Homo sapiens: one gene and its partners. The protein of the gene in region 3 purifies or fractionates together with the protein of the main gene of each other region. This does not show direct contact. Each region holds a gene or a part of one and is shown on either strand. Other genes may lie near its edges. The genes, in order: PCDHAC2, PYGM, TAF6L, TMED5, PCDHGA5, TNFRSF13B and MYH7.

What was found.
Region 1: the proteins of TAF6L (region 3) and PCDHAC2 purify together in Homo sapiens (co-immunoprecipitation; one large-scale study listed by IntAct). This does not show direct contact.
Region 2: the proteins of TAF6L (region 3) and PYGM purify together in Homo sapiens (affinity purification with mass spectrometry; one large-scale study listed by BioGRID and IntAct). This does not show direct contact.
Region 4: the proteins of TAF6L (region 3) and TMED5 purify together in Homo sapiens (co-immunoprecipitation; one large-scale study listed by IntAct). This does not show direct contact.
Region 5: the proteins of TAF6L (region 3) and PCDHGA5 purify together in Homo sapiens (co-immunoprecipitation; one large-scale study listed by IntAct). This does not show direct contact.
Region 6: the proteins of TAF6L (region 3) and TNFRSF13B purify together in Homo sapiens (co-immunoprecipitation; one large-scale study listed by IntAct). This does not show direct contact.
Region 7: the proteins of TAF6L (region 3) and MYH7 purify together in Homo sapiens (affinity purification with mass spectrometry; one large-scale study listed by BioGRID and IntAct). This does not show direct contact.

The regions. Positions count from the first base shown.
Region 1 is NC_000005.10:140,972,735-140,976,772, forward strand, and holds part of PCDHAC2 (protocadherin alpha-C2 isoform 1 precursor), read left to right. Parts: intron 1-4,038. UniProt on the Homo sapiens protein: Potential calcium-dependent cell-adhesion protein. May be involved in the establishment and maintenance of specific neuronal connections in the brain.
Region 2 is NC_000011.10:64,749,509-64,753,546, reverse strand, and holds part of PYGM (glycogen phosphorylase, muscle form), read left to right. Parts: coding exon 1-28; intron 29-359; coding exon 360-474; intron 475-1,042; coding exon 1,043-1,144; intron 1,145-1,475; coding exon 1,476-1,623; intron 1,624-1,891; coding exon 1,892-1,950; intron 1,951-2,080; coding exon 2,081-2,222; intron 2,223-2,963; coding exon 2,964-3,171; intron 3,172-4,038. UniProt on the Homo sapiens protein: Allosteric enzyme that catalyzes the rate-limiting step in glycogen catabolism, the phosphorolytic cleavage of glycogen to produce glucose-1-phosphate, and plays a central role in maintaining cellular and organismal glucose homeostasis.
Region 3 is NC_000011.10:62,777,793-62,781,830, forward strand, and holds part of TAF6L (TAF6-like RNA polymerase II p300/CBP-associated factor-associated factor 65 kDa subunit 6L), read left to right. Parts: intron 1-185; coding exon 186-336; intron 337-492; coding exon 493-543; intron 544-1,076; coding exon 1,077-1,171; intron 1,172-4,038. UniProt on the Homo sapiens protein: Functions as a component of the PCAF complex. The PCAF complex is capable of efficiently acetylating histones in a nucleosomal context. The PCAF complex could be considered as the human version of the yeast SAGA complex.
Region 4 is NC_000001.11:93,159,849-93,163,886, reverse strand, and holds part of TMED5 (transmembrane emp24 domain-containing protein 5 isoform 1 precursor), read left to right. Parts: intron 1-3,660; coding exon 3,661-3,758; intron 3,759-4,038. UniProt on the Homo sapiens protein: Potential role in vesicular protein trafficking, mainly in the early secretory pathway. Required for the maintenance of the Golgi apparatus; involved in protein exchange between Golgi stacks during assembly.
Region 5 is NC_000005.10:141,366,958-141,370,995, reverse strand, and holds part of PCDHGA5 (protocadherin gamma-A5 isoform 1 precursor), read right to left. Parts: exon of another isoform or gene 3,213-4,038; intron 755-3,212; exon of another isoform or gene 602-754; coding exon of another isoform or gene 1-601. Other genes in the region: PCDHGB3 (protocadherin gamma-B3 isoform 1 precursor), read right to left, coding at 1-601. UniProt on the Homo sapiens protein: Potential calcium-dependent cell-adhesion protein. May be involved in the establishment and maintenance of specific neuronal connections in the brain.
Region 6 is NC_000017.11:16,968,979-16,973,730, reverse strand, and holds the start of TNFRSF13B (tumor necrosis factor receptor superfamily member 13B), read left to right. Parts: upstream 1-1,612; 5' UTR 1,613-1,655; coding exon 1,656-1,716; intron 1,717-4,752. UniProt on the Homo sapiens protein: Receptor for TNFSF13/APRIL and TNFSF13B/TALL1/BAFF/BLYS that binds both ligands with similar high affinity. Mediates calcineurin-dependent activation of NF-AT, as well as activation of NF-kappa-B and AP-1.
Region 7 is NC_000014.9:23,432,861-23,437,679, forward strand, and holds the start of MYH7 (myosin-7), read right to left. Parts: upstream 2,801-4,819; 5' UTR 2,760-2,800; intron 1,390-2,759; 5' UTR 1,334-1,389; intron 881-1,333; 5' UTR 873-880; coding exon 672-872; intron 368-671; coding exon 224-367; intron 1-223. UniProt on the Homo sapiens protein: Myosins are actin-based motor molecules with ATPase activity essential for muscle contraction. Forms regular bipolar thick filaments that, together with actin thin filaments, constitute the fundamental contractile unit of skeletal and cardiac muscle.

The DNA of each region.
Region 1 (4,038 bases), on a different chromosome or scaffold from region 3:
CTCACTGCAACCTCCGCCTCCCAAGTTAAAGTGATTCTTCTGCCTCAGCCTCCTGAGTAGCTGAGATTACAGGCACGCGCCACCACGCCTGGCTAATTTTTGTATTTTTAGTAGAGATGGGGTTTCATCATGTTGTCCAGGATGGTCTCGATCTCTTGACCTTGTGATCCACCCGCCTTGGCCTCCCAAAGTGCTGGGATTACAGATGTGAGCCACCATGCCCGGCAAAGGAAACCAAATCTTAAGGTAGATTCTGTGCATTTGTGGTCGTGGTGTTGTGATTGTTAATGAGTCACTTTGAGTACTCTAGTAGATTTGTCCAACAGTGTCTCAGTGGGCCCAGCTGGCACAACATGTAGAAATTATGAAAGAGTAGCAGAGATGAATTAAGTTTGCATTCACTTTCACTTATTTTAAAGCAATTTGTAGTCACCAAACCTTCAGTTATTTCTGCCACTATGTGTGCATATTCACCCTAATTCCAGGTATAGTGACCTGAAAGAGTTAATTCTTCTTTCAGTGGCACCTACTTTTATTTCCCCCAGCACTGATTTTTCTATCTGATGACTCTATCCTGGAACAGAGTTTACACTCGTTGTAAAGTGACATAGTAGTGAATTTATAAAAATTGCACAATGGTCAGAATAGACAAAGAAATCATATCTATGAGCTTCCACTCCAGTTTTTCATCCTCTGATGGTCACTTTATAATGACTGGGGCTGTTTTAGTTTGCAAATTTCATATTGGTCACAGGACTCTTCTTCTGAGAAAAAGTTTATTTTCTTTGGTCTGATGATACAATAATTTATTTCAATTACCTCTTTCCTCAATTTTTCTACAGACTGCTGAGCCAGATGGAATTATGGCTGAGCTCTTCTCTGTTTCTGTATCTTGTACACATTCTGACTGAAGAAGAAATCTATTTATTGTAGCTTGAATGTCATTGGCCTACTGTTTCCTTCTGACCCAGGAGTGAGCCATCACATGGGCATCTGGTCTAACTCAGAACACTCTGCAGGGACACAGCCTGGCATATTATAGGTTGCCTATTGGCATGCTGTCTACTTGACAGAATAGCAAAGTCAGTTCTGGGTACTTGCTTGTTGCCTACCAATTTTTGCTCTCAATGAGAGGTCAGAATAATGTCAATTTGCAAATGTTTGAGGAAACATTCCTGTCACCAAACCCAGAGGTTTAGCTGAATATGATGGCATTTTACAGGTGTCTTTAAATGTGGCTTTTACAGAACTTCACCTGGATCAATGTTTTGTGCATGTGATAATACAACTATAAATTTAGCTTATTAATATGATAATATTTGGAGCAGTATAATCTATAACCATGACTTCAAAAATCAAAGGTTAAAAGTATTCTTTTGCAGTGTTTTAAATCTGCTAACCTGAAAACTATACAAGGGTTTTTCTTTCAAGAATTTTAACTTGACAAATGCAAAGGAATATCCAACATTGCAAAGGTAAAGAGAAATCTTAGTTCCTTGGCATATAAGCACCATCAGTTCCTTTCTGGCCTTCCAGGGTCAGAACTCTGGGCTCCAAGGAGGTACAACTGTGAGTGAGAGAGTAGCTGCTGTGCTAGCAGGCTATGCATCCAGAACTAAACAGACCTAGCACTTTCTGTTGTACTGGAACCCATTAGGTATGTTCTAAAGTTATGTTTATTTTACTTTCCTGGTTTGTAAATTAGCATTTTAAATGACTACATTCAGAGGAAAGTATTCCACCCAGAATTCTCAAATGTATTACCTTTGTGTTTTATTTTATTTTAGTTTTTTTGAGACGGAGTTTTGCTCTTGTTGCCCAGGCTGGAGTGCAATGGCATGATCTTGGCTCACTGCAACCTCTGCCTCCAGGGTTCAAGCGATTCTCCTGCCTCAACCTCCCGAGTAGCTGAGATTACAGGCATGCGCCACCATGCCTGGCTAATTTTGTATTTTTGGGTTTCACCATGTTGTTCAAGCTGCTCTCGAACTCCTGTCTCCACCTTGGCCTCCCAAAGTGCTGGGATTACAGGTATGAGCCACTGCGCCCAGCCCTCATTTTGATATACTAGAAGACCAATATGCAACATAATGATTATTTTAAATGTTATATTCCCTTTTGCCTTAATGCGGAACAGTCTATGTATCCCTTTTCTGATGATTTGTAACAAATTACCACAAGTAAGTTGTTTAAAACACCACCTATTTGTTATCTCACAGTCCTGTACCATGTGGCTGAGTTGTCCGCTCAGGTATTCTCAAGGCTGAAATGAACACAGCTGGGCTGTGTTGTCCTTTGCAGGCTCTTAGGAAGAATCTACTATCGAGCTCATTCAGATTGTTGGCAGAATCCAGTTGTTTGGGGACTGAGATCTCTGTTTTCCTACTTACTATTGGCCTGGGGTCACTCTCAGTTCCTAGAGAACTGAGGACTCAGGACTCTTGTCCCATGGTCTGCTCCATCTTCATGGCTGGCACTGGAGAATCTTCCCTCACATGGAATCCCTCTTATGCTTCAGATCTCTCTGATTTCTGTCTCTGACCTCTAGACCCAGATTTAAAGAGCTCATGTGATTATGTCAGTCCCATCCAGATGATCTCCCTTTCTTAAAGCCAACTGTGCTACATAGCATAATGTAATCATGGGAATAAGATCCATCACAATCACAGTCTTGGAGACTATTCAGGGTGTGCACACCAGGATATAGGGATCTTGGGGCCATCTTGGAATTCTGCCTATCAGTTTATATCAATGTTCATAAAATAGCACTATGCAAAATCTGCAGTGGATATATTCTTAATACAGTCCTATTAGGAAGGAAAAGGAGATATTATATGCAGTCTCATGTCCCAGAGGGCAATTTGTTGATGTCTTCCACATGGATTTCCATGGTACGAAGATAGCATATTATTTCATTGAGTAGTTGTGTGAGTTTATTAATAAAATAGGGTATTTTAAACTTATTTTACTTTAAATCTTAGAAGAGGTGATTCATCCTTCTGTAGCTCAAATATTCTATGTCATAAATCACAGATAATACCATTACAAGATAAATTAAATCTTTTTTATAATTTTAATAGGAACTGAAGTGTATTCTTATTCTTCAGTAATACTACATCACCCATATGGACTACCTAATTGATTTTTTCCACATATGGAGTTTTGTGACCATTATTCTACCAAAAGACTAACCTTTGAAGCAATAGGACATATTAGAGTTCTTCACCAATAGAAAGTAAGCATAGTCCTGGGAGGTACCATCTAAGTATTAAAGAACTAAATAATCACAGTTATTTCAACTGTGATTGAAATTGTGATAGTAATATATGTCTTACTGTGTCAGATATATCAGTAGTCAACTTTTCAACTTGAATTTTTCCAAGTTTAATCAAGTTCTGGATGAAACTCATGTACATTTTACTACTTTTAGTTTTGTATTGTTTTAAATCAATATCCTGGAAACTCAGAAGTAAAAAAGAGAAAGAAGAAAAATATATGTCATTTCATGTAAATTTATTTAAAACACAGACTTTTGGCAAGGCACAGTGGCTCAAGCCTGTAATCCCAGCACTTTGGGAGGCCGAGGAGGGTGGATTGCCTGAGGTCAGGTGTTCAAGACCAGCCTGGCCAACATGGTGAAACCCCATCTCTACTAAAAATTCAAAAATTAGCCAGGTACGGTGGCAGATGCCTGTAATCCCAGCTACTAGGGAGGCTGGGGAAGAAGAATTGCTTGAATCCGGGAGGCAGAGGTTGCAGGGAGCCAAGATCGCGCCACTGCACACCAGCCTAAATGACAGAGTAAGACCCTATCTCATAAATAAATAAATAAATATAAATAAAACACAGACTTTTGTGTTAAGGGGACCTAAACATGACTGTCAGCTGAACTCAGCAATCAGACAAGTAATTTAATCTCTCCAAAGTTCAGATGTCTCATTTTTGCAATTTAAGTACAATAATGTTGACTTTGCATTATAGTTCATTTATTTAAACACATTTTAAAAACCTCCCAGATGCCAGAAGCCTGCTAGACTC
Region 2 (4,038 bases), 2.0 Mb from region 3:
TCCACTCCGAGATCCTCAAGAAGACCATGTGAGCCCCGCTTTCCAGATCCCGCCCCTCTCTAGGCCCCACCCACTCCACGCCTCTGTCACACAGAAGCCCCGCCCTTCACCGACCACTCTCTGGTCTCTGGGCCCTGGCGCCTTTCACAGGTGGCGTCATTCTTACAAGCACAGCAGCCCCTTCCAGTGCCGCCCTGTCCTGAGATGACCTCCTCTTACACACAGCACCCCCAACCTTCCCCAGGTCTGCATTCCCTGCCCCAGGCCCCTTTCAGCAAGACACCAGGGTAGGGGCCCCAGGGCAGAGGCCTTCATTGTACAGGGGTGAGTGGTGACCCTCGTCCAACCTCATCCTGCAGCTTCAAAGACTTCTATGAGCTGGAGCCTCATAAGTTCCAGAATAAGACCAACGGCATCACCCCTCGGCGCTGGCTGGTTCTGTGTAACCCCGGGCTGGCAGAGGTCATTGCTGAGGTGAGAGGCCACCGTAGGGCCAGTAGAGTCAACATGGGTCCCTGCAGGGATCAGCTGGGTATGGTCGTGTAGGTGGTTCACTGCATCAGGGCTCCCAGCTGAAGGCTGAAATCCCTCCTGCACTGTGTTCCCCAAGCCTCGCATCCACCTGGAGGAGGGACACCATCTTAATTGCATGAGGGTGCTCTGTGTGCTAATGGAGGCCCTGGCTGTGGAGGTGAACACAGCAGAGGGAGTCATCCATGGGTCACATCTGAAGTGAGCCTGGAAGGGGGCAGATATCTGGTAGGGAAGGCGCAAGGTCATGCTGGCGTTAGGAAAAGGCCAGGAAGCCAGGAAGGCCTGCTGGGGTCAGGTGGGGTCAGCCATCAGAGCTCAAGGACGGGAGGGGAGGAAGGTGCATGGATGCCCCGTGCCCCATCTGGGCGGCTGGAGGAGGAGGGGCTGGGAGGGCCCCCAGAGCAGCCTGCTGGGTGAAGGGGGCTTGGCTGACCTGGAAATGGCCCCTTCTGTGTTGGGAGGAGGGAGGACATGGGGATGGGCTTGGCTGAGAGCCGTCTTCCCATAGCGCATCGGGGAGGACTTCATCTCTGACCTGGACCAGCTGCGCAAACTGCTCTCCTTTGTGGATGATGAAGCTTTCATTCGGGATGTGGCCAAAGTGAAGCAGGTGGGGAGAGATGCAATGTGGGACAGCTGTGCTGTGTGGAGAGCGCTGGAGGGGCCAGATGTCTGGGTCAGGCGTGGCAAATAGAGCTCATCTCTCCTGCCAGCCCAGGCCGTTGGTGGAAGTTGCCTGGAGTCTGTGGTGGGAAGGCATCATCTGACCTCACATGAACAGTGCTGACATTGATTAGCAATGTCTGCCCTGGTACAGGAGTGGACAGAAGTAGCCAGTGAGCCTCCTGGTAGCCATCCTCCTGGGGCTGACTGGAGTGTGGACTGTAGGATTTCCTGAGGCTGTGGCCTGTTGGTGAGCCCTTCCCCGTCTCTGCCTCCAGGAAAACAAGTTGAAGTTTGCTGCCTACCTAGAGAGGGAATACAAAGTCCACATCAACCCCAACTCACTCTTCGACATCCAGGTGAAGCGGATTCACGAATATAAACGACAGCTCCTCAACTGCCTCCATGTCATCACCCTGTACAACCGTGAGTGGCAGCCACTCTACCCTGTCTCTCAGTGCTCCCCCGTGTTCCTGCGGCATAGTACATATTGCCCAACCAACATCTCCTTTGGACTTGGGACTACTCTTGGGACATGGAATTATCCCCATTTCACAGATGGGCAAACTGAGGCTAAGAGAGCATAGCAAGTGATTGTTCGAGTCAGGCCTACGGTGTCCCAGCCCAGCCTCTGTCAGGAGCTACTACCCAGAGGGAAAGGTAGGCCCACTGGATCCCTCTCGTTTCTCCACAGGCATCAAGAGGGAGCCCAATAAGTTTTTTGTGCCTCGGACTGTGATGATTGGAGGGAAGGTGAGAAGCCAGGCTCCAGCCCTGGGCTCCCGTCCTTTGATATATCCAGGTTGAGGTCAGCCCAGCTGAGTTGCAGGATAGGGGGTGGGGGGCCAGGCAGTAGAGCTGACCCCAGACTTTGTCCCCTCAGGCTGCACCTGGGTACCACATGGCCAAGATGATCATCAGACTCGTCACAGCCATCGGGGATGTGGTCAACCATGACCCGGCAGTGGGTGACCGCCTCCGTGTCATCTTCCTGGAGAACTACCGAGTCTCACTGGCCGAGAAAGGTGGGTGCTGCCAACAGGGACCCTAGGGAGGCTCTGACTAGTTCAGTCTCAGGAAGAGGTATCAGTCGTCTCTTCCTGGGATACTTGTACTTGAAAGAAGAATCTGGAGAGGGCAATGCTTAAACCATGAGGAGGCCAGGCGCAGTGGCCCATGCCTGTAATCCCAGCACTTTGGGAGGCCAAGGTGGGTGGATCACCTGAGGTCAGGAGTTCGAGACCAGCCTGGCCAACATGGTGAAACCCCGTCTCTACTAAAAATACAAAAATTAGCTGGGCGTGATGGCAGGTGCCTATAATCCCAGCTACTTGGGAGGCTGAAGCAGGAGAATCACTTGAACCTGGGAGGCGGAGGTTGCAGTGAGCCGAGATCACGCCATTGCACTTCAGCCTGGGCAACAAAAGCAAAACTCCGTCTCAAAAAACAAGAGGAAACAAAACAAAGCAAAAACCCCATGAGGATGCCCTCTAATGGTGGAATTTCAGGCAGTACAGGGTGAAATTACCTTCAAATCTGCAACAGAGGTGGGGAAATCCAGGTTGGACCTAGATGGTCAAGAATCAACAAGAGGTAGAGGGCAGTGGGGGTGCGGTGTGAGAGGGAGGCTTGGCTGGTGAAGACTGGGAGTTTGGGGTGGGGCGACTCTGAGTCCAGCTATGCCTGGGGCCAGCCTAATCTGAGAGTCCCCAGCTGGTGTGAGGGTCTTCCCTGAGTTGACTTGTCCCCCTGCTGCCACCCCACAGTGATCCCAGCTGCAGACCTCTCTGAGCAGATCTCCACTGCGGGCACTGAAGCCTCAGGCACCGGCAACATGAAGTTCATGCTCAACGGGGCTCTGACCATTGGCACCATGGACGGGGCCAATGTGGAGATGGCAGAAGAGGCGGGAGAGGAAAACTTCTTCATCTTTGGCATGCGGGTGGAGGATGTGGATAAGCTTGACCAAAGAGGGTATGGGGGTCAGGGTTCACGGGCAAAAGACACCCAGGTGTGGCTGCTGGAGAGTGGTGCTGGGAGCAAGCGGCACGTCTGGAAAGACTGGTCCAGGCCCAGCAAGGTCTTGGTCATGGCCAGCAGGATTCTGGGAAACTTTAGAGGGCGCTTACAGCAAATAAGGTTAATGAAATTGGAAAAGAAAGAAGTAATATAGAACTGAAGGAAAAGGAAGAGAATATTATATCAACCCTAAGAGATAATATTGTTTGGGAAATGGAAGTAAAAAAATCCTTGCTCTACGCCGGGTGCGGTGGCTCACACCTGTAATCCCAGCACTTTGGGAGGCCAAGGCGGGCGGATCACAAGGTCAAGAGATCCAGACCATCCTGGCTAACACGGTGAAACCCCATCTCTACTAAAAATACAAAAAATTAGCCGGGCGTGTTGGCAGGCGCCTGTAGTCCCAGCTGATCGGGAGGCTGAGGCAGGAGAATGGTGTGAATCCAGGAGGCGGAGCTTGCAGTGAGCCGAGATCGCGCCACTGCGCTCCAGCCTGGGTAACAGAGTGAGACTCTGCCTCAAAAAAAAAAAAAAAAATCCTTGCTCCCTGAAAGCCATGGGCAAAAGGGAAATATGGGCACAGTAGTTACAAGGGGCCTATGGTCAGAAACAGTTCTTCAGAGAAGACATTATCCTGGCATTACATTAAAAAATTTTATTTTATTTTATTTTAATGTATTTTTTTTTTTGAGACGGAGTCTCGCTCTGTCACCCAGGCTGGAGTGCAGTGGCGCGATCTTGGCTCACTGCAAGCTCCGCCTCCTGGGTTCACACCATTCTCCTGCCTCTACCTCCCGAGTAGCTGGGACTACAGGCACCTGC
Region 3 (4,038 bases):
CCCCGGATGCTCCAGGCAAGTCCCCAGTGGTGGCTCTGAGTCCCAGGCTTCCACCACTTTTCTTGGGACTTCTGGACTTCCTTCAAACGTGGGCTCTCTGCTCTGGTCAGTGGAGCCTCATCCTGGATCCTGACGCCTGCTCCCTCCCTGGATTCAGGCTGCTCTCCAATTCCCTTTTTCCTCAGGCTGTGTGTGGTTACGGATCACAGGAGGCACTGCCCATGCGCCCCGCCAGGGAGGGTGAACTCTACTTTCCTGAGGATCGAGAGGTGAACCTGGTGGAGCTGGCCCTGGCTACCAACATCCCCAAAGGCTGTGCTGAGACAGCTGTCAGAGGTGGCTGCCGGGGTCCTGCATGGGTTGGGGATGGGAGTTGGGCCGTGAAGAGAAGTGGTGATGGGCTGGCTGGTGGAAGAGGCAGAACTTGGAGGGGTAGGCGGTACTCTAAGGGGCAAAACGCCAGGCTGACACATCTCTCTGCACTGCTTCTAGTTCATGTCTCCTACCTGGATGGCAAAGGGAACCTGGCACCTCAAGGATCGGGTAAGGGGTGATGTAGGAAACAGGCTCTTTGGATGAATTTTCTCCCTTAGGTTCTGAGGGTGGTGCCTATGTGCCCCCGAGTCTGCGTCTAACATGTGTTTACCCATGCCTGCCTTGTGCCATGGTCTGAGTGGGCGCTGGGCTCTGCATGGAGGGCTCAGAGTTGGAGATGGGGGCCCAGACCTGTAACTAGTCATAATGCAGCATGTTGGATGCTAAGACAGAAGTCTGGGCAGCATGCTGGGGCGGTGTTTCACCCCCAGGGTATGCTGAGCAGAGCTTCACAGAGCCTGAAGCTCTCAGGAGTCCGTCTGGCAGAGGGTGGGTGGAAGACAGGACAGAGCACAGAGGTGTGCAGAGCCTAGATGGTCAGGGCTGAGCAGGCTCTAAGAGCAGTCTCTTGCCCTGGTTGTCCTGTCAGAAAGGCTTCTTGTGGATGTGTGTGGGGATGGTGGTTGAGGGGGAGGAGGCTGGAGAGGCCAGGAGAGGGCCAGCTCTCCACCTGTCCCTGCTTCCTGCCTGTCCTCTGGCAGTGCCCAGTGCTGTGTCTTCACTGACAGATGACCTTCTCAAGTACTATCACCAGGTGACTCGTGCTGTGCTAGGGGATGATCCGCAACTGATGAAGGTGAGCGAGTGGGCCCAAGTTGGGGCACAAAGTTGAAATTGTAAATTCTAGACCTGTTTTTTTTTTTTTTTTTTGAGACAGAGTTTCGCTCTTGTTGCCCAGGCTGGAGTGCAATGGCATGATCTCAGCTCACCGCACCCTCTGCCTCCCAGGTTCAAGTGATTCTCCTGCCTCAGCCTCCTGAATAGCTGGGATTACAGGCGTGTGCCAGCATGCCCGGCTAATTTTGTTTTGTTTTGTTTTGTTTTTGAAACGGAGTCTTGCATTGTCACCCAGGCTGGAGTGCAGTGGCGCGATCTCGGCTCACTGCAAGCTCCGTCTCCTGGGTTCATGCCATTCTCCTGCCTTAGCCTCCCGAGTAGCTGGGACTACAGGTGCCCGCCAACATACCCGGCTAATTTTTTGTATTTTTTAGTAGAGACGGGGTTTCACCGTGTTAGCCAGGATGGTCTTGATCTCCTGACCTTGTGATCCACCTGCCTCAGCCTCCTAAAGTGCTGGGATTACAAGTGTGAGCCACCGTGCCCAGCCTTATATTTTTAATAGAGACGGGGGTTTCAGCATGTTGGTCAGACTGGTCTCGAACTCCCGACCTCAGGTGATCCACCCGCCTTGGCCTCCCAAAGTGTTGGGATGACAGGTGTGAGCCACTGTGCCCGGCCTAATTCTATGAACATTTAAATTTTTATTTATTATTTTAATTAAAAAAACATTTTTTTTAAGATGGGGTCTTGCTCTGTCACCTAGGCCGGAGTGCAGTGGTGTGATGTTGGCTCACTGCAGCCTCTACCTCTTGGGTTCAAGCAATTCTCCCACCTCAGCTTCCCAAGTAGCTGGGATTACAGGGGCATACCACCATGCCTGGCTAATTTTTGCATTTTTAGTAGAGATGAGGTTTCACCGTGTTGGCCAGGCTGGTCTCAAACTCCTGACCTCAGGTGATCCACCCGCCTCTGCCTCCCAAAGTGGTGGGATTACAGGCGTGAGCCTATATATATATATATATATATATATTTTTTTTTTTTTTTTTTTTAGAGACAGGGTCTCACTGTATTGCCCAGGCTGGTGAAACTCCTGCCCTCAAGCAATCCTTCCTTGGCCTCCCAGCACTTTGGGAGGCAGAGGTGGGCGGATCACTTGAAGTCAGGAGTTCGAGACCAGACTGTCCAACATGGTGAAACCCCATCTTCACTAAAAATACAAAATTAACTGGCTGTTGTGGTGGGTGCCTGTAATCCCAGCTACTCGGGAGGCTGAGGCAGGAGAATTGCTTGAACCCAGGAGGCAGAGGTTGCTGTGAGTCAAGATCACACCACTCAGGTGGATCACCTGAGGTCAGGAGTTCAAGACCAGCCTGGCTAACATGGTGAAACCCCGTCTCTACTAAAAATACAAAAATTAGTCACGTGTGGTGGTGGACGCCTGTAATCCCAGCTACTCAGGAGGCTGACGCAGGAGAATCGCTTGAACCTGGGAGGCAGAGGTTGCTGTGAGCTGAGATTGTGCCATTGCACTCCAGCCTGGGCAACAAGAACAAAACTTCATCTCAAAAAAAAAGATCACGCTGCTGCACTCCAGCCTGGCTGATAGAACGAAACTCCGTCTCAAAGAAAAACGAAAAAGTAATACTAGTACATGTTTACTGTAGAAGTACATATAATATAAAAACATAGAAAAAGAAAGTGGCTGGGTGCGGTGGTTCACGCCTGTAATCCCAGCAGTTTGGGAGGCCGAGGTGGGTGGATCATGTGAGGCCGGGAGTTCGAGACCAGCCTGGCCAACATGGTGATTTCCCGTTGGATATCTACTAAAAATACCAGAAAATTAGCCGGGCTTGGTGGCATGCGTCTGTAATCCTAGCTACTTGCGAGGCTGATGCAGGAGAATCGCTTGAACCCAAGAGGCAGAGGTTGCAATGAGCCGAGATCGCGCCACCGCACTCCAGCCTGGGCAATAGAGTGAGACTCCATCTCAAAAAAAAAAAAAAAAGGGCCGGGCACGGTGGCTAACGCCTGTAATCTCAGCACTTTGGGAGGCCGAGGCGGGTGGATTGCTTGAGGCCGGGAGTTCGAGACTAGCCTGGTCAACATGGCAAAACCCTGTCTCTACTAAAAATACAAAAATTAGCTGGGCGTGGTGGTGGGCGCCTGTAATCCCAGCTACTTGGGAGGCTGAGGCAGAAGAATTGCTTGAACCCAGGAGGCAGAGGTTGCAGTGAGCTGAGATTGAGCCACTGCACTCCAGCCTGGGCGACAGGGCGAGACTCCATCTCAAAGAAAAAAAAAAAAGAAAAAGAAACTGAAAAGTCTATTCCTCCACCTACTTTTTTTTCTCTGTATCAACTATGATTACTCTCATAAAAACCTAAGTGGTATTATATTAAGCATCTGGTTTTATAGATTGCCTTTCTCAGTTAAAAATGTTGGATGGCCGGGCGCGGTGGCTCACGCCTGTAATCCCAGCACTTTGGGAGGCTGAGGTGGGCAGATCACGAGGTCAGGAGATCGCGACCATCCTGGCTAACACGGTGAAACCCCGTCTCTACTAAAAAATAGAAAAAATTAGCCGGGTGTGGTGGCAGGCGCCTGTAGTCCCAGCTACTCGGGAGGCTGAGGCAGGAGAATGGTGTAAAACCTGGGAGGTGGAGCTTGCAGTGAGCCAAGATCGTGCCACTGGGCGACAGAGCGAGACTCGGTCTCAAAAAAAAAAAAAAAAGTTGGACATTCAGGTTGTATTCAGGGCCATATGCAGGTATATGTGAATGAGTTTCTGTAGGTTACATTTATAGAAATAGAATTGCTAGATCAAAGAATATGAACATTAAAATTGTAAAACATGAATAAGGTGATACACTGTCTTCCAGAAGA
Region 4 (4,038 bases), on a different chromosome or scaffold from region 3:
CTCAACCTCCCAGGTACCTGAGATTACAGGCGTGCATCACCATGTCCAGCTAATTTTTGTATTTTTTTTTTTTATTAGAGACAGGGTTTCACCATCTTGCCCAGGCTGGTCTTGAACCCCTCACCTCAAGTGATCCACCCACCTCAGCCTCCCAAAGTGCTGGGACTACGGGAGTAAGCCACCATGCCTGGCCCAGATTGTGGCATTTTTAGTATTTATTTTGTATTTTTAAAGTGTATTTTATGGCCAGGCACAGTGGCTCACACCTGTAATCCCAGCACTTTGGAAGGCTGAGATGGGCGGATCACTTGAGGTCAGGAGTTCCGAGACCAGCTTGGCCAACATGGTGAAACCCCATCTCTACAAAATACAAAAATAGCCGGGCATGGTGGCGCATGCCTATAATCTCAGCTACTCAGGACACTGAGGCGGGAGAATCATTTGAACCTGAGAGCCAGAGGTTACAGTGAGCTGAGATCGCGCCACTACACTCCAGCCTGGGCAACAAAGCGAGACTGTGTCTCAAAAAAAAAAAAAAAAGTATATTTTATGATTTTTTAATTAACCTTCCATAGTCTTAAAAATCATTTTTCACAATTTCATTAAGCCTGACAGCCACTACCAATAACTGCTTTTTAACTTTGTTTTACTGAAATCTTTTCTTAGCTTTGTTACATTGCTTGTTTTCTGATTTAATATATATATTTTTTGTTTTTGGAGGGTATCCTTGAGTAATTCTTTGAGAATGTTTTGAGTCCTTGGATATCTGAAAATAACTTTATTTATTTATTTTAAAATTTTATTTTAGAGATGGGTTTTCACTGTATTGCCCAGGCTGGAGTGCAGTGACTACTCACAGGCACTTTCATAGAACACTACAGGCTTTAACGCCTAGCCTCAAGTGGTCCTCCCACCTCAGTCTCCCAAGTAGCTGGGAATACCAGTGCATGCTACCACACCTGGCAAATGGCTTTATTTTTGCTTTCATGTCAGTAAATATCTTTTTACTTGGGAACATTGACTACATGGCTCCATTATTTTTTTCCATCTAATGTTATATGTAAGAATTCTGATGCTAATCCCAATTCTTGTATTTTGCAGTTCTCTACTACTTCTGCTACTTCTCTTTGATAGAAGATTGTACTTTTTAAATCCTTTGGAAAACTCCATATTTTATGGTCTTTTTTCATTTATCCTGCTTCACATTTATTAGATCCTTTCTGTCTGAAGATTTTCATCTTTTGAAACAGGAATTTTTCTTCTTTGTGGGTTTTTTGTTTTTGTTTGACGTGGAGTCTCACTCATTCTTTTGCCCAGGCTGAAGTACGGTGGCATGATCTCTGCTCACTGCAACCTCCGCCTCCTGGGTTCAAGCAGTTCTCCTGCCTCGGCTTCCCAAGTAGCTGGGATTACAGGTGTGTGCCACCATGGCTGGCTCATTTTTTTATTTTTAGTAGAGATGGGGTTTTGCCATGTTGGCCAGGCTGGTCTCAAACTCCTGACCTCAAGTGAACCACCCGCCTCGGCCTCCCAAAGTGCTGGGATTACAGGCATGAGCCACCGCACCCAGCCTATAGATTTTAATTGTTACATGTCTTCTTCATTTCATTGGGATTTAAAGAAGAAAATTATGTACATTTAGCCAGCCATTTGAAACCAGTTCTGTTGAACAATAAAAGCACAGGAGTAGGTAATTTTTTATATCATCACATTAAAACTACCATGAAAAATAAAATGGAGTGTTAAGAAAAAGAGTAGCCATTGAGTTAGGTTTTTTTTTTTTTCAGTTAAAAGGCTGTACTATATAGTGTTCCAAATAGATTCTTTTTAAAATTTTAGCAAACACTATAAATACAGAAGAGAAAACGCAGGGAAAGAGGAAGACAGGAAGAGAAGTTTGCAGACAGATCTACAGGGAAAACACTGAGACACTTTAATTTGTATAGGATGATAAAAAGATGCATTTATTAAATATTTGCATCTGTGACAAAAAATCAAAATATGGATAATAACATTGTTAGGACCAGTACCCTTGGAGTTATAAAAATAGTGAACAAAATTTTCATCCATCTTATCATCTATGTTGGATATGCCACATAGGTGTCCATAAAGGTACCTACAAGTTTATGCTAAGTGAATCCTACAAAAAGATGCTTAGATTCCAGAGAACGTCTCATAAGTGCCAAAGAGGATAGGTGTGCAATCTGTAGTAATACAAGAGAGAGTGTGAGAGAACTGGACAGGAGGATTCAGAGGAGATTTCAAAGGACTTGACCCATTTATGCAGGAGGTTGCAATTTTTTGAATTGCAAAATGAGACCTTGGCAATGACCTTGAGCAGTAGGATATAAATAACTCCTACATGCTTAGTGTTCCACTAATGGAACACAAGGCATAAATGGGTTAAACTGGCTCTTAAAGAATGAATACAATTGGATGAGTACCTATTCAGGAGAATGGAACAGAAATAGAGGCAACACAGCATACTTATTAAAAATTATTCTAGAGGCAGATTGCTGAGTTCAAATTTTGACCATGTCACTTATTTGCTGTATCACTTTGGTTTATTTTTTACTTATTTTTTTTAATGTGGCCTAGATGAATTAATGCTGTGTCACTTTGGAAAAATGATTTCTCTGTGCCTCAGTTTTTGTTGTTTTTTTACTAAAATGAGAATAATAGGACCTACCTTTTAGAGTTGTTATAAGGAATAAATTAATCCACATAAAGCATTTAAGACAATTTATGGCATCAACTATAATTGTTAGTTGCCATGATTATCATCATCATCTTCATAGAAGGACATTTTGGAATTACAAATGGATAGATTGTATTCATTGGCTAGTAAATGAACCGGCCTGCTTCGAATACACAATTCATACTGGGAAGTAGTAGAAGAATGTGTTGAAGTCAGTTGGAGTCCACACCATGGTGGTCTTGAATTCCAGGCTAAGAAACAGTTAATTATTATTCTTTTATTGAAGAGGAAACAAAAAAGTTATATACAATGTCTGAAATTGCCTAAGTCTTTTTTTGGGGGGGCAGGGGAGGCAGGGGGGGCGGGGTACCGAGTCTCACTGTCGCCCAGGCTGGAGTGCAGTGGCACAATCTCGGCTCACTGCAACGTCCACCTCCTGGGTTCAAGCGATTCTCCCGCCTCAGCCTCCTGAGTAGCTGGGATTTTTCTATTTTTAGTAGAGACAGGGTTACACCATGTTGGTCAGGCTGGTCTCGAACTCCTGACCTCATGATCCACCTGCCTCGGCCTCCCAAAGTGCTGGGATTACAGGCGTGAGCCACCGCGCCCTGCCAATTGCCTAAGTTTTAACTAAAACGCCCAGCATTTGAACTGCTCTTTGTGTTTCCGTCCATTCTACAGGGATTCTGAATGAAACCACTATTTTAGGAAGATTTATTTCAGTAATATCCATAAGGCCTAAATTTAGGTGATGGTGAGAGAAATGGGTAAGGAAGGGACAAGTTCCAAAAATGAATGGAATTGAACTAGATGATCTTTTGGTTCTTTTCTAGCTCAGACATCACTGATGACTTTCTTACCTCTCTAGCTTAGATAATCTTTACATCATATGATCTACTGTATATAATTTTTTATTTCCAGAATTTGTAATATATGTTTTTCTCATGTATGCTTTTCTACAGGTTTTAGATGGAGCAGGATTAGATATTGATTTCCATCTTGCCTCTCCAGAAGGCAAAACCTTAGTTTTTGAACAAAGAAAATCAGATGGAGTTCACACGTAAGTAATCTCTTTTAGTTGAGTTTCATTGCTGAATAATACCAGTGGGTTATCTGCAGGGCATGGAAAGTTAGCACATTTGATACTACATATCAATATTAGATAATTCCATATGATTTAAAACAGTTCATGATAGTGTGCCATCTGATAAACAAAAACATCTTCCATTAACCTTTCTATTTTTGTTTAAGCGTTTTCTTTTGATCCAGGCTAAATTTTTTCTGTGCTTTGGTTAGTAAATTAGTATTCCCCTGGTATTCCATTCAATCTATCGTGGCAT
Region 5 (4,038 bases), on a different chromosome or scaffold from region 3:
CCAGGGGTGCTTTCAGTACTAGCTCTGGGTACCTACTGCCATCCAGGTTCTCCTTCTGAATCAAAGAGAAGTGCGGATCAGGGCTGAGGTAGTACTGCTGCAGCGAATTGACACCTACATCAGGATCTTGCGCAGATTCCAGGGCAAATGTGGCTCCAGTGAGAGCCAGTTCGCTGATTTCCAGCTCAGTGATATTTTGGCTAAAGGTCGGTGGGTTGTCGTTAATATCCTGGATCAGCACAGTTACATGAAAAAAGTTTAAAGGCTTTTCAGCAACCATTTCAAATTCCAGAACACACGTCGACTTCTTGCCACAAATCTCCTCTCGGTCTATACGGTCGCTCACAAGTAAGTTCCCATTTTCGGGGCTCACGGTAAAGAATTTCTTCTCTGCAATAACCCGCAGGTTCCTAGTAGGTAAATCCCCCACGCCAAACCCCAGGTCCTTGGCGAGGTTCCCTACCAGCGAGCCCCTGTCCAGCTCCTCGGGAATAGCGTAGCGGATCGGTTCGGAGAGAGCCTGGTCTAACAAAGAGAGCAGGAAGAGAAATAGCATTCGCCTCTGCCCTGCTGGGCCCCTCCATCCGGAGCTATTTCCCATCCCGCTCTCTGCGCCTTTGCCTTTCTAAATCCGAGGAGAGGAGATCTTTAAATAATCCCAAGAGTTCTCCGAGCAGGACCAACTATTTGCTTTGTCTTTGTGCTTGGGTTCTCTAATGGGTGTCTCCGCTGCAGGAAGCCTGATAGAGAGTGCACTTTTCTTCCGAGCTGGCTGCAGCGGGAGGAGCCAATATTTTGCACAGCACTAGCCAAGAGCGGCACCCGGCGCCTCTGCTGCAGAACTGCAGTAATGGTGACTAAATCAGCTCCAAATAAGGAGCTAGTTAGGAGAAAAATCGGCAGTGTACTGATAGTGATACTTTCTTCCCATTTTAAAAGGACTTTTAAAAAACATTAAATATACTTACTATATCTTTAGTCTGTTATTTCTTTTAATTTGAGCTTTATCCATCCAAATCAAGTACCTTTTACTTGTCAAAGGGCAGAGATAATCTTGCTCAATCCCGTCACGTTTTTAGTTTCCATTTTCATAAAATGGTCATAATAATATCTTCTCTGCTTACTCTAGTAGAAATGAGGGCCAAATAAAATAATACATAGAAAATCATACAAATGGAAGCTATTTTTGGTGATGGCAGAAGACGTAGTATAAAGAGGCTTGAAATATCAGCTTCACGTGTATTCTTATTGCATTCTATTTCCTTTACTTCTAACTTCTAAAAGTTATAATGTCATAGCTTTTAGTTTTATTCTATGTTTCACTTTCTTCTCTTTTATCTTTATTATCTCCCCCCAAAAGAAGTTAAAGGTAATGAGGAAATGATTGACCTTATAAAATAGAAGTATAGTAAAAAGCAAGAGGGTCTCTTTTCCTTTGTTTCCAAGTGTCTACTTTTAATTAAATAAGTATGATTGAAAACTTTTTTTTTCTATAGAGGTGGGGTTTCACTATGTTGCCCAGGCTGGGCTAGAACACCTGGCTTTAAGCAATCCTCCCACCTCAGCGTCCCAAATTGCTGGGATTATAGTCATGAACCACCCTGGCCCAAATGAAAAACTTTTACAAAGGATGTTTTTTCATACTACATCACAATTGTCCTGAAATGTACTGTTTCTTCTCAAGTAGCCTAACAATGATGCGTTATTAGGATTGGGGAGTGAATTGTAAGTCCTTATAATTATATTATTTAATTATATAAGTAATCTTCCTGTCCACTTTTCCTTGGTCCCCAGTTTACCATCTGATAATCCTAACTTTTTGTTATTTACACTTTTCCCTGGTCAATAACATGCCATTTTCCATGTTTCTGACAGGTGTCTTACAGTTTTAATTCCATTTTCAAACCAGAAAATCTTCCTAAAGAAATTATCTTTAGCCTACATAATGTATTGTTACTCTAAAACTAGGCAAGTGTGCAGCAATAAGCAATGAGTTCCACACCGAATTCACCTTATAGTGGAAAAGCATTATAGCATCTTAAACTACTCACAGTAACCAGAATTCTAGACAGACACTCATTGTCACCTTTATACAAACATCAAAAATATAACTGACTCAAGACTTTGCTCCAAAACATTCCAAAGCAAGTGCCTTCCAACACAATGCCAAGTGTTCATTGTATGAACACTTCAATTAGTATGAAAAATTATTCTTCAGAACACATATAAAACTAAAGATTCAGATATTTAAAAGTATATGGTATATACAGTACATACATTCAAAATGTATGGATCAAGCATTTTATAGTCTGTTAGTAGTTTATAGAGGGTTTAAAGATATTTTTCCATTGCACAAAACATTTAACTCAGAAGAAATGTACCCAAATCTATAACCTTTACTTTTTTCCCAAACACCTTACCCTAAGAAGCATATAACATTTTCTTTTAAAAAAAATGGAAAAGCAAGTTTTCACATAGGAGTGAATAATGTCGACACCTACTGTATAGATTCTCTTGTTACTCTTTGGATGCATTCACTATTCGGTGAGTTTGTACATTTTACATTTTGGTCAGAATGTCCATGTGTGTATGTATGTGTGTTTGTGTGTGTGTATGTGTGTATATATATGTGTGTATATATATGTGTGTGTATATGTATATAGATATAGATATACTTGAATGCTCTTTAACAGTGTTTAAAAAATAAAAATCAAGTGGTCTTAGGTTCTTTAATGTGTCAATTAACCTTTCATGTGGTTGAGTAATGTAGCTTACTATCCCATTTGTAATATTTTATTACCTTTTCCCCTTATTTAGTCATTATTTGAAGCTGATGCTCAAGGTTTTAAAAGTACAAAATTTGAAGGATTAAGAATATTTTAATAAGAAACATCTGAAAATCATCTTCAGCAAATCAGATGCAGAAGGGAAATATAGTAGTTCTTTCATTACATAACACATCCTCCTGGAATTTGAGGCACATAGGCCAGTATTTCATTAAGACAAATCTATTAATTTAAGATGAGCACATACGTTAGATATGAAATTTAAAATTTTGAACCATCTTTAAGTTGAGTTCTTTTTTTTTCAAATACAACCTTAAACTCAAGTAATAAAGAAGAATTGCACCTACACTTAAAGAAACGCTAACATTGCAGTAGGTATTGATTCTAATAAGTAAAGGGTTTATCTATAACAGAAGATGCCAGGTGTGTGACATATTTACATTTATTGAGTGCAGCAGTATGTAACTCTCTGGAGGCTTTACATCACAGAACGAAGCCCAACCTTAAGGTTCCTTTACACTGATTTCTTCTCTCAACAAGCCCACATATCCAATAACTACATGGCTTAACACAAACTTTCCAGACTTTAGAATGCTACATGTTATCATTAATATAAATTTTATCTACTTTTCTGATATTTATTTATTTATTTATTTATTTATTTATTTATTTTGAGACGGAGTCTCGTTCTGTCTCCCAGGCTGGAGTGCAGTGGCGCGATCTCGGCTTACTGCAAGCTCCTCCTCCCGGGTTCACCCCATTCTCCTGCCTCAGCCTTCCGAGTAGCTGGGACTACAGGCGCCTGCCACCACGCCCGGCTAATTTTTTGTATTTTTAGTAGAACAGGGTTTCACCGTGTTAGCCAGGATGGTCTCGATCTCCTGACCTCGTGATCCGCCCACCTCAGCCTCCCAAAGTGCTGGGATTACAGGCGTCAGCCACCGCACCCGGCCTCTTTTCTGATATTTATGACCCAGAAGTTCTCTGTACCTTTCCACTGATTTATGTAAATACTGTAAATTATTTCCTTAAACAAATTTCAGGTAGACTAAAATATCAGTCCTATACATTATCCTTTCCAAAACACATTCACTAATGGTGTCTAGGCAGACACTCAAAAGAGAACAATATATCTAACAATTTGAATAAATAAAACATCTTTTCTATTAATAGAACTGCAGTTCCAATATAACAAAATATTTGGGTAAAATGATTATATTTAACCACTTTCCTTTAAGGTATTTGTTTCACT
Region 6 (4,752 bases), on a different chromosome or scaffold from region 3:
CCTCTGCTGCATGGACATTTACATTGTTTCCCGTTTCTCGCTGTCATGAGGAGGCTCACGGAGGAGGAGAATTTCTGGGGGGTGGGTTAGGTGTGTGTTGTGCATTTAACTGACCCTGGCTGGTTACTCTCCAGAACGCTGCTGCCAGCTCCCTCCCTCCAGTGGGCCCTGAGTTCATGCTTCTGTAGATCACCCCCCTGCCCTTGATGTTACCAACTTTAAAACTTTGCAACCTGATGGCTGAAAGTTAGTTTTTCATTGTTCAGTTGTTTTTCTGATTTTTGGGAGACTGGACATTTTCCTGTGTTTGCTGACCGTCTGCATCTCCTCTCCTGCTCTGTGCACCATCACCCTGCTCCAGCTGCTTCCTGCAGCCTCCCTCCTTCCTCTCCACCTCTCCATGTCCTCCTCGTCCTTCAGTTTCTTCCTAAGGGCCCATGGGCTTTCTTTGGCTTTTACGTTCCTCTCACTCCGCCTTTGGCTGTTGCTGGGCCTCCCATCCCCTGGGAGGTTTCAGACGATGGGGAAGACACAGGAGTGCAGTCGCCATGCAGTGCAATACGGGCTGTAATGTTCCTCCTCCACGGCCTTTATTGAGGACTTACTGTGTGCCAAGAACCTGCTCTAAGAATGTAACTGTGCTCCCTCCCTCATTTCATGCTCATAACCGCCTGTGAGGCGGGCAATGTTCTCATCCTTTTTTTTTTTTTTTTTTTTGAGATGGCATCTCTGTTGCCCAGGCTGGAGTGCAATGGCACGATCTCGGCTCACTACAACCTCTGACTCCCAGGTTCATTCTCCTGCCACAGCCTCCCAAATAGATGGGACTACAGGCACGCGCCACCACACCCGGCTAATTTTTTGTATTTTTTTTTAGTAGAGATGGGGTTTCACCGTGTTGCCCAGGATGGTCTCGAACTCCTGAGCTCAGACAATCCACCTGCCTCGGCCTCCCAAAGTGCTAGGATTACAGGCGTGAGCCACCATGCCCGACCTCATCCTTGTTTTACACAGAGAACATGGAGGCACAGAAGAGTTCCATAAATTGCCACCAAGGCCTTCTGCTAGTATGCAGCAGAGTCAAGATTCAAACGCAGGCTGTCCGGTCCTGGGGTTCAGCCTCTCCAGTGCTCTGCTAGGTGTTGGAGAGGGTCAAGGAGATACAGAGAATGAGTACCACCTGACAGGCTGGGACAGTCAGGGATGGCTTCCTGGAGGAGGTGACACCTCAATGGAGCCTTGAAGGAAGAGCAGGAGGAGCCGACCAGGCAATGAATAGAATAAGTATACCCAGGAAGAGGGAAAGGCCTGAGTGATGCTGGGAGGGTGGAGAGCTGGCCTGGCTTGGGGTGTGTGCCGGCGGGCAGGAGATGAGGACCAAGGGATGGCCAAGGCCAGATCTAGAAGAGCCTGGGCCATCCCATAGTCAATACCTCATCGCAAGGCCCGGCAGGCCTTCCACTGCTCTGTGTGTACCCCATGGGACGCCAGGAGCCTGGGCCGCAGCCACCCACCTGGGCTCCTGAGACCCAATGCACAGGCATGGGGGCGGGAGTGGGTGTGGCTGATTTACATCCAACAGGTTGAGGGGAAAACCCAGGAAGTGCAGCCCAAGCACTAATCAAATCTAAGACTAGTAATAAGCATCCTGAGTAATGAGTGGCCTGGGCCGGAGCAGGCGAGGTGGCCGGAGCCGTGTGGACCAGGAGGAGCGCTGTGAGTAGCCGGGCAGGAGGGCAGGAGGGCAGGTGGGAGGTGTGAGGAGGGTTGGGCCTGAGTGCCGTGGGGGTTGCAAGGTCCAGCAGGTGCAAAGCCCACAGCAGATCCACACACTGGGGCAGTCCCAGCCTCCCCAAGCTCCTGCACATGGAGAGCCCCGAGTCTGGATGCCTCTGGGATGTGGGGCTTGCCTTCCGTGACAGAAGCCACTGAGGTTGCAGGGTTGGCCACACCGGCAGGAATTCCCTTTGTCACCATGGCCCCTGCACAGCCCCCATTTTCCCCCTTACATGCCCGCTGGACCATTTTAATGCTAATCTCAAATACCAGATTGTTTGAGTTGTGGAGACCACAGGATTTATTCCTTAAGAACACAAACCCTAAAAACAAAACAAAAAACTAAGCATCATACCTTCACCCCTGCTGAAACAACAATTCCTGAACATCATCACATAGCCCGCCAGGGTTCAAACTGTACCAACTGTCTCACCAATGTCTTTCTCAGTTGACTTGTTCAAATCAGCCTGTCCCACATTAGACTTTTGGCTATGTTTTAATCTATAACAGTTTCCACCCATTTTTTCTGTTATATATTTATATTTATATTTATCCTATAGCTTTCTTTTTTTTTGTTTTGTTGTTTTGTTTTTGTTTTTGTTTTTTGAGACAGAGTCTTGCTCTGTCACCCAGGTTGGAGTGCAATGGCATGATCTCGGCTTTCTGCAACCTCCGCCTCCCGGGTTCAAGCCATTCTCCTGCCTCAGCCTCCCGAGTGGCTGAGATTATAGGTGCCCACCACCACGCCCGGCTAATTTTTTGTATTTTTAGTAGAGATAGGCTTTCGCCACGTTGGCCAGGCTGATCTCAAACTCCTGACCTCAGGTGATCCACCTGCCTCAGCCTCCCAAAGTATTGGGATTACAGGCATGAGCCACGGCACCCGGCCCGTATAGCATTTTCATCAGGGTGGGTTTCTAAGGTTTTATGAAAGGGCCCCAGGTCCTTTAGTGCAGACAGAACCCATGGCCAGATGGACCCGGGGCACAGCCTAGATTCACAGCCTCTGCCTGCTGCTCTGTCCCACACCTCAGGCAGGGAGCAAATTTGTTCTTCAGTCCTTTTTTGTGTCCAGCCACCAAGTCCCCAGAATCTACACAGCCAGGGGCTCAAATATGTAAAGTTTCTGAGAGACTTGGACAAGGCAGTGACCAGAGGCTGCCTTAACACAGGATGAAATTGCCCAGTGCTCTGGGGCCACGAGTCAGGACCCAGCTAGAACTGTGACCTGGCAGTGGCAGAAGCTGTCTGGTGCTGCCGAATCAGCCCTGGCCGGTTGTCCACTGGCCCACTCTGGGACCTTGGCTGAGCCGCTTCCCCTCAGTGTAAAATGAAGAAGACTGTCTTTCCTACCAGACATCCCTCAAACACACAAAAGTGCTTTGATGAAACTACCAGACCCCCTCTTGGGGAGTCATGAGGAAAGGCTCTGAGAAGCCCTGCGGTTAAAAAACTGCCTTGACTTTCTTTAACCCAGTGTTTTTCAAACTAATCCGACCACAGAGCTCTTTCTTGGTGCAGCACCTGTTAACCGGCCAAGCCCGTGAGGAGGCACAAGCAGAGGGCTCTGAGAATCACCCTCCTTGGCTGCTCTCTGGTCTCGGGGTGCAGGAGAGAGTCTCCATCCTGCATCCAAATTTGTGGCGGCCCAGAGTCTGAGCCCAGCCCACACAGCTAGTGTCAGAGAGGTGTTCCCTTTCTTCCCTTTCCATCAACGAAGCTTCTCTCTCAAGCTTCTATTCTGCCTGGCTGGTGTCAGTCATGGGGTTTTCCTGCCCTCCTTTGGCACTTGATGATGGTTCTGGGATTTTATGTAGGTCCACATGGTGGTAGAGGAGGGGGCGGGGACAGGCCCTCTGGTCAGCTTGGCATCTGCTGTCTGGTCAGTCAGGCACTGTCTCTCTGTCAGGTCCAGTGGCTTTTGGTGGCTTTGGTCCAGGCAATGAATGGGTCTTGGAACATCTCCAAGGCTGCCCTTGTCACATAGAACGTCCTGCCCACCTTCCACTCAACCAACCCTTCACGGTGATATGCGGCGGGTGGTGGCTTTCTCCCTCTTTGCTCCCCAACCCAAAAGTGGGGAGAATCGGGTCTGCCTTTAATTTTGTTTGATCCTTTGATTTTAGATTTGCCTTTGAATAGATAGTATAGTCAGATGGTTTGAAACCCAGAAAGTATTGAAAGATATATAATAGAAAGTCTTTTCTTCCTCCTTGTCCTCCATCTGCCCAGTTCCCACCTCCCCTAGAATAAGCAGCTTTATTTACATATAACTTACATGCCATGAAATTCACCTGTGTAAAGCATACAAGTCTGTGTTTTTAGTATATTTACAGAGTTGTGCAACCATCACCATAAGCTAATTTTGGAAGATTTTGATGACCCCAAAAAGAAACTTTGTCAGTCTTCATTCCTCCCTAGCCCCAGGCTAATCTACTCTCTGTCTCTATAGATTTGCCTGTTTTGGACATTTTCCATAAATGGAATCATATGTGATGTATTGTGACTAGCTGCTTCCACTTGGCATAATGTTTTCAAGGGCCGTCCATGTTGTAGCAGGTATCAGTACTTGCTTCAGTTTTGTGGCCAAGTAACATTCCACTTTATGGATATGTCATGTGGCTTTTCCAGTCATCGGTGGATGGACATTTGGGTTGTTTCTACTTTTTTTGTCACTGTGATTATTAAGAAAGCTTCTATGAACTTTTGGATTCAAGTTTTGGGTGAACATGTCTTCATTTCTCTTAAGTAGATAGATACCTACAAGTGGAATTGCTGGGTCATATGATAAATTCTATGTTTAACATTTTAAGGAACTGCAAAATGCTTTCCAAAGCAGCTGCACTATTTTATAATTCACTTCATGCATGAGGGTTCCAATTTCTCCACATCTTCACCGACATTTGTCATTGACTGTCTTTCTCATTCTAGCCATCCCAAGGGGTGTGAGGTGGTATCTCACTGTGGTTTGGATTT
Region 7 (4,819 bases), on a different chromosome or scaffold from region 3:
TAGAGAAAGATCCCAGGAGAGAAAGAAGAGAAAGGAAAACCTCTGCATGCACTCAATCTGAGTAATGCCAGTCCCCAGAGTGTTGGAATTGAACCAAGGATGTTGGGACGAGGTTAGAGTGTAACCCTGCCTAGACACAAACAGAAGACACTCTTGGCTCCTGGGGTGGACATGGATGGAGCAAGAACAGAGATCCCAACGTAGGGCCAGGTGCAGCACTCACGTAGATCATCCAGGAGCCGTAGCGATCCTTGAGGTTGTAGAGCACCGCGGGCTCATGCAGGAAGGTCAGCATGGCCATGTCCTCGATTTTGTCGAACTTGGGTGGGTTCTGCTGCATCACCTGGTCCTCCTTCACGGTCACTGTCTGCAAGAGCCCCCACCCAAGCCCTCCTGTCAGCCTGGGCTTTCCCTCCTTCCTCAAGAGGGTTAGGAGTTGGTGAGTGACAGGGCAATAGTGCTCAAGAGAGAAGGAACCAGGATCTCACAGGGAAGACAGAAGGGATATTGGGAAGGAGAGGGCTCTTTGGAGGGTCTGGATTCTTCCCCAAAGGGAAGGAGAATGGGACCATCCTCAGGTCTGCATGGGCATGGGGCATGGGTGTACCCCTCTCTGTCCACCCAGGTGTACAGGTGGCCAGGGTGGACTCTCACATCAGCCTGACACCCACCTTGCCATACTCGGTCTCGGCAGTGACTTTGCCACCCTCTCGAGACACGATCTTGGCCTTGACAAACTCCTGTTTGTCATCAGGCACGAAGACATCCTTCTTGAGGTCAAAAGGCCTGGTCTGCGCTTCTAGCCGCTCCTTCTCTGACTTGCGCAGGTAGGGGGCGGCAGCCCCAAAGACTGCCATCTCCGAATCTCCCATGGCTGTGCCTGGAGTGAGCAGAAGCTGGCTGCCCTCCCATCTGCCCATTCTTCCCTTCCCTCCCTGGGCTCTCCCCTTCAGTGGGAGCCCCAAAACCTAGCACCATGCTCAAGAGTCAAGAGGAGTTACCAGTGAGTCCCTTCCTCTTTGAGGTTACCCCTTAACCAGAGGAGCAGCCTAGCAAACCTGCCAGGGTAAAAGGAACAACTAACTATTGTTCAAGCTGGGGCTCTCCTAGGGGAAGGAAGAGCATTCTGAGCTCCCTGTAGGAGCAGAAATCTAACTATTTCCATCTCTGACCCTCATCTATCCCTGGACCCCCTGGTCACAGGTAAGTAGCTCTTGATAGCCAAGATATTCTCTCCAGCACATGGCAGAAACTAGAGTTCCATAGGCTGGCTTTGGGGCTCTAATGCCCAGTCTTACTAGATTTTCAACACTCTAGCTTCAGCTTTTCTTACCTGGGCTACTCAAGTGTGTCTACAGATGAGGAAAGGGGCCAAGGCCTGCAGGGGACCTGGAGAGAGGGAAGAGGCTGTGTCAGGGCAGGCTGTGCCCAACCTGACCAGTCCCACCTTCCTGCTTCTCCCTGGCTCTGTTCTTCAGCATCCACCCTCTTCCAAAACAAGGTGGAAAGGGTGGTCAGCTTCTCTGGTCCCATCCTTCTTGTTTTTCAAACCCTATTCCCTTTTTCCTCAAGAACTAGTTCTAACAGCTTCCTGGTGTCAACTCAACCTGAACCCTAATCCTCTTCACTCCTGCGAGATGGTCCCACCCCTGCCTGTACCCATCTAGTGGTACCTTTCTTTGAGCCATCTGAGAGACAACTAATGGTCACATTTGTTCGGCACTTTCCAGTCTAAAAGCACTTCAATGCACTTTCTCCTACTCAGTCTTCACCCCATTTGACAGATGAGGAAATCGAGGTTAAATGGCTTGCTTGGCCAAGAGCCCATGACAACAAGTGGGAGAGCCAAGACTTGAATGCAAGTCTGATGACTCTAAAGAGACTTCTTTTCCATCCTGTCCCCATTTTGTTGTCAGACTTTGTGGACATTCTCAGAGAGAAGACACTGTGGGCTTCCTCTCACAGACACACCCATCACATAGCCAAACACCCTCCACAAGCCCTCTGATGAACACTCATGCCTGCTGCTTGGGCATGCCTCTCACATGAAGACAGGCTTCCTTCCCATACCTCAATCCGCACCCCAACCCCAGGGTGCCATATATGCCTCAACAGCAAATGTGCACATTTCAGGATGTGTGCCACGTAAGTAGATCACATCACTGCGTGTTCTTCAGTACACAAAGACCTGGAACATCCTACACCCCCGTGCCTGTGAGTTCCTTCTGCAGAGGGTACAGATACTATAACAGTCATGACTCGTGGAGGCATAGACAAGAACCTCTGCATGCATGGACAGGGGTAGCTACACATTCCAGGCCTCACAGAATCACATGAAGGCATACACACTTCCTAGAATCCTTCTCCACCATTCTTTCTCCCTCCCTGCAAAGGAACCTCCTCGTTCACAGACGTGATCATACACCCACATCTCCCACTTGATATTTCTGTATCAGTCAGTGAGGTACATACCCTTTCTCACATTCAGACTATGCAGGCTTGTCCACACACACACACACACACACACACACACACACACCCTGTAATGCATATTGGTCCCATATGCTCAGATGCAGATATCTTCCCCTAGGAACTCCTGTGGCACATACGCCCATGTTTAGACCTGCACATGTGTGCCCAGTGACTGGACCTGGTACTCTGCATGAAGTCCTGCATGAAGCTTGCTATTCCAAGAGGAATCCCTTCCTAAGCCTGGAGCCCCCTTATCCCAGAGTAAAGCCTCCAGCTCCCGCTCCTACCTGAGAGCAGCAGGGAAAGACACAGAGCAGGACAGAGCTGTGGAGCCAGACCTGGTCTCAGGGGCTGTATATATGGGGCAGCAGGGCACCCCCACCCCCAACGGCACCCAGTCCCTAGCCGGATTTAGAAAGGGCTGTTGTCACTAGAAGCATTTCCCCCAGGCTCCCCCCCTTCCCAAACAGTGCTCCCCTCCCCGCCTCTCCAGCTAGGAAACAATTGGAAGTGGTCGTCATTGTTATGGCATGGACTGTGCAGGGTCTGAGTTCCAGGGGGCGGGGTGGCTCAAAGTGCAGCAAAAATATCTCCCAGGCCAGGCCTCACATTCCACAGCTGGCAGGAGAGGGAACTGACCACGACCACCAAGACCACAGGCAGCCAATGTCCTGGCTCTCCCGCAGGGCACTTCTGGCCCTGGACACTGCTCCCCCTCCAGTCCCCTGCTGCGAGGCCCCTGATGGCCTGGCCGCATTTCCACAGTGTCCTCCCTGCTCTCCTGGCCCAGGTCCTGTATCCAACTGGAAGCTGGGAAGGGGCTGAGTGTCAGCAGCAGAGAAGGGTAGGACAGAGTTGGGGGCATGGCCCCAGGGTGAGGCAGCTAGACTGGGGCAGCTGGAAGGACATTTCCTAGCCAGGTGGCAAGAACAATAACCATGGAGCTTAGAGATGGGGACTCTGGCTCAGGCACTGATTTCCTTGGACCAGCAGGCAATGTGTTGAGGTCACCAAGCCTCCGAGCCAGACAGGCCTTTAGCAATCCATCCAAGCACTTCATTTAATGGAGAGGGACAGTGCATTCTTTAAGGTTATACAGCTAATCGGGGCAGCAGGATTCAAGGTGGGAAACCTCAGCAGATGGGAGTGGAGCCCGGCCTGTGGAGGGTAGCCTGGAAAGGTGGGCTGGGATTCCAAAGATGTGGGGACCCCCTATGCGCAGAGAGCAGGACCCAGCTGCATTGGTCCTAGTTTGGAGCGGTTTGCCTGACTCACGTTCCTGGCTCTGCCCCACAGGTACTAAAGGCCTGAGCCCAGAGACAGACCCTCTCAGAGCTATAGATAATACAACTACTTGGAGCTGGAAGGAGACCCCTAAGACAGCTGTTGTCTGGCCCACCCAGCCTCAGCTTTATCCAGAGCTGGAGGCGACTAGTGTTCTGGCAAGTGAGGCAGAGTAACAGGACAGGAAAAATCTTCCCCTCTGCAGGCCTGAGGAACAGCCACAAAGGAGGGGAGGAAAGGGAGCTGGGGCCCAGCCTACGAGCACAGAACACAACCGATGCCATGCTCTTCTAGCAACGGGGCATGCAAGCTTGACTGGCTCCGTGTCTAGGCAACCACTGCACGATTTGGTGTGAAATCTCCCCCTTCTTCCCAAGCACAGCTCTTCCGCGCATGCGGATTAGTCCATCTGATTAGCTGTCAGCTTGGAAGGAGTGAGGCAGGCCTGGGGGATGGGTGCAGCAGGTACATTTTGAAGGTGGGGTGGGCATAGCAGGGAAGGGAAAATCCAGGAGGAGGCCTCTGTGGGGGTTGCTTGGTAACCAAGGCACTAAGGTACAGTCTGAGGACATTGAGCAGCTATAAGGGGGGTGCAGGCAAGTGGGGGTAGACCACGAACTGCAAGGGCTGTGTCTGACAACACCGCAGCTCTGCAGTGCTAAGGTATACAGTTGCTGAGGTTATCCCAGTAGTCTGTGCTACTAACATGCCCGGCAGAACAGACTCTGGCAGTCCCCCCCAGGCCCTGCCAGGTGCTGAGGAATCAGCCCCATTGACAGAGACAGACCCTCTCAAAGCTATAGATAATACAGCTGCTTGGAGCTGGAAGGAAACCCCTAAGACAGCTGTTGTCTGAGGTTCCCTGTAGGAACCTCAAGGATTGGCGATGAGGGGCAAAAACTCCTTTCGTCCCCACCTTCCAGCTTTCCAAGCTCCAAACTGCCACCCCTCCCTGATTTCCCAGGGCAATTAAGATGCACAAAGGGTGCTTGGGACGTAGTTGAGCCATTTCAAAGCCAGTGTCTTCACCACAGGCCAGCGTCCTTCCTTGGCTGGGGACTTG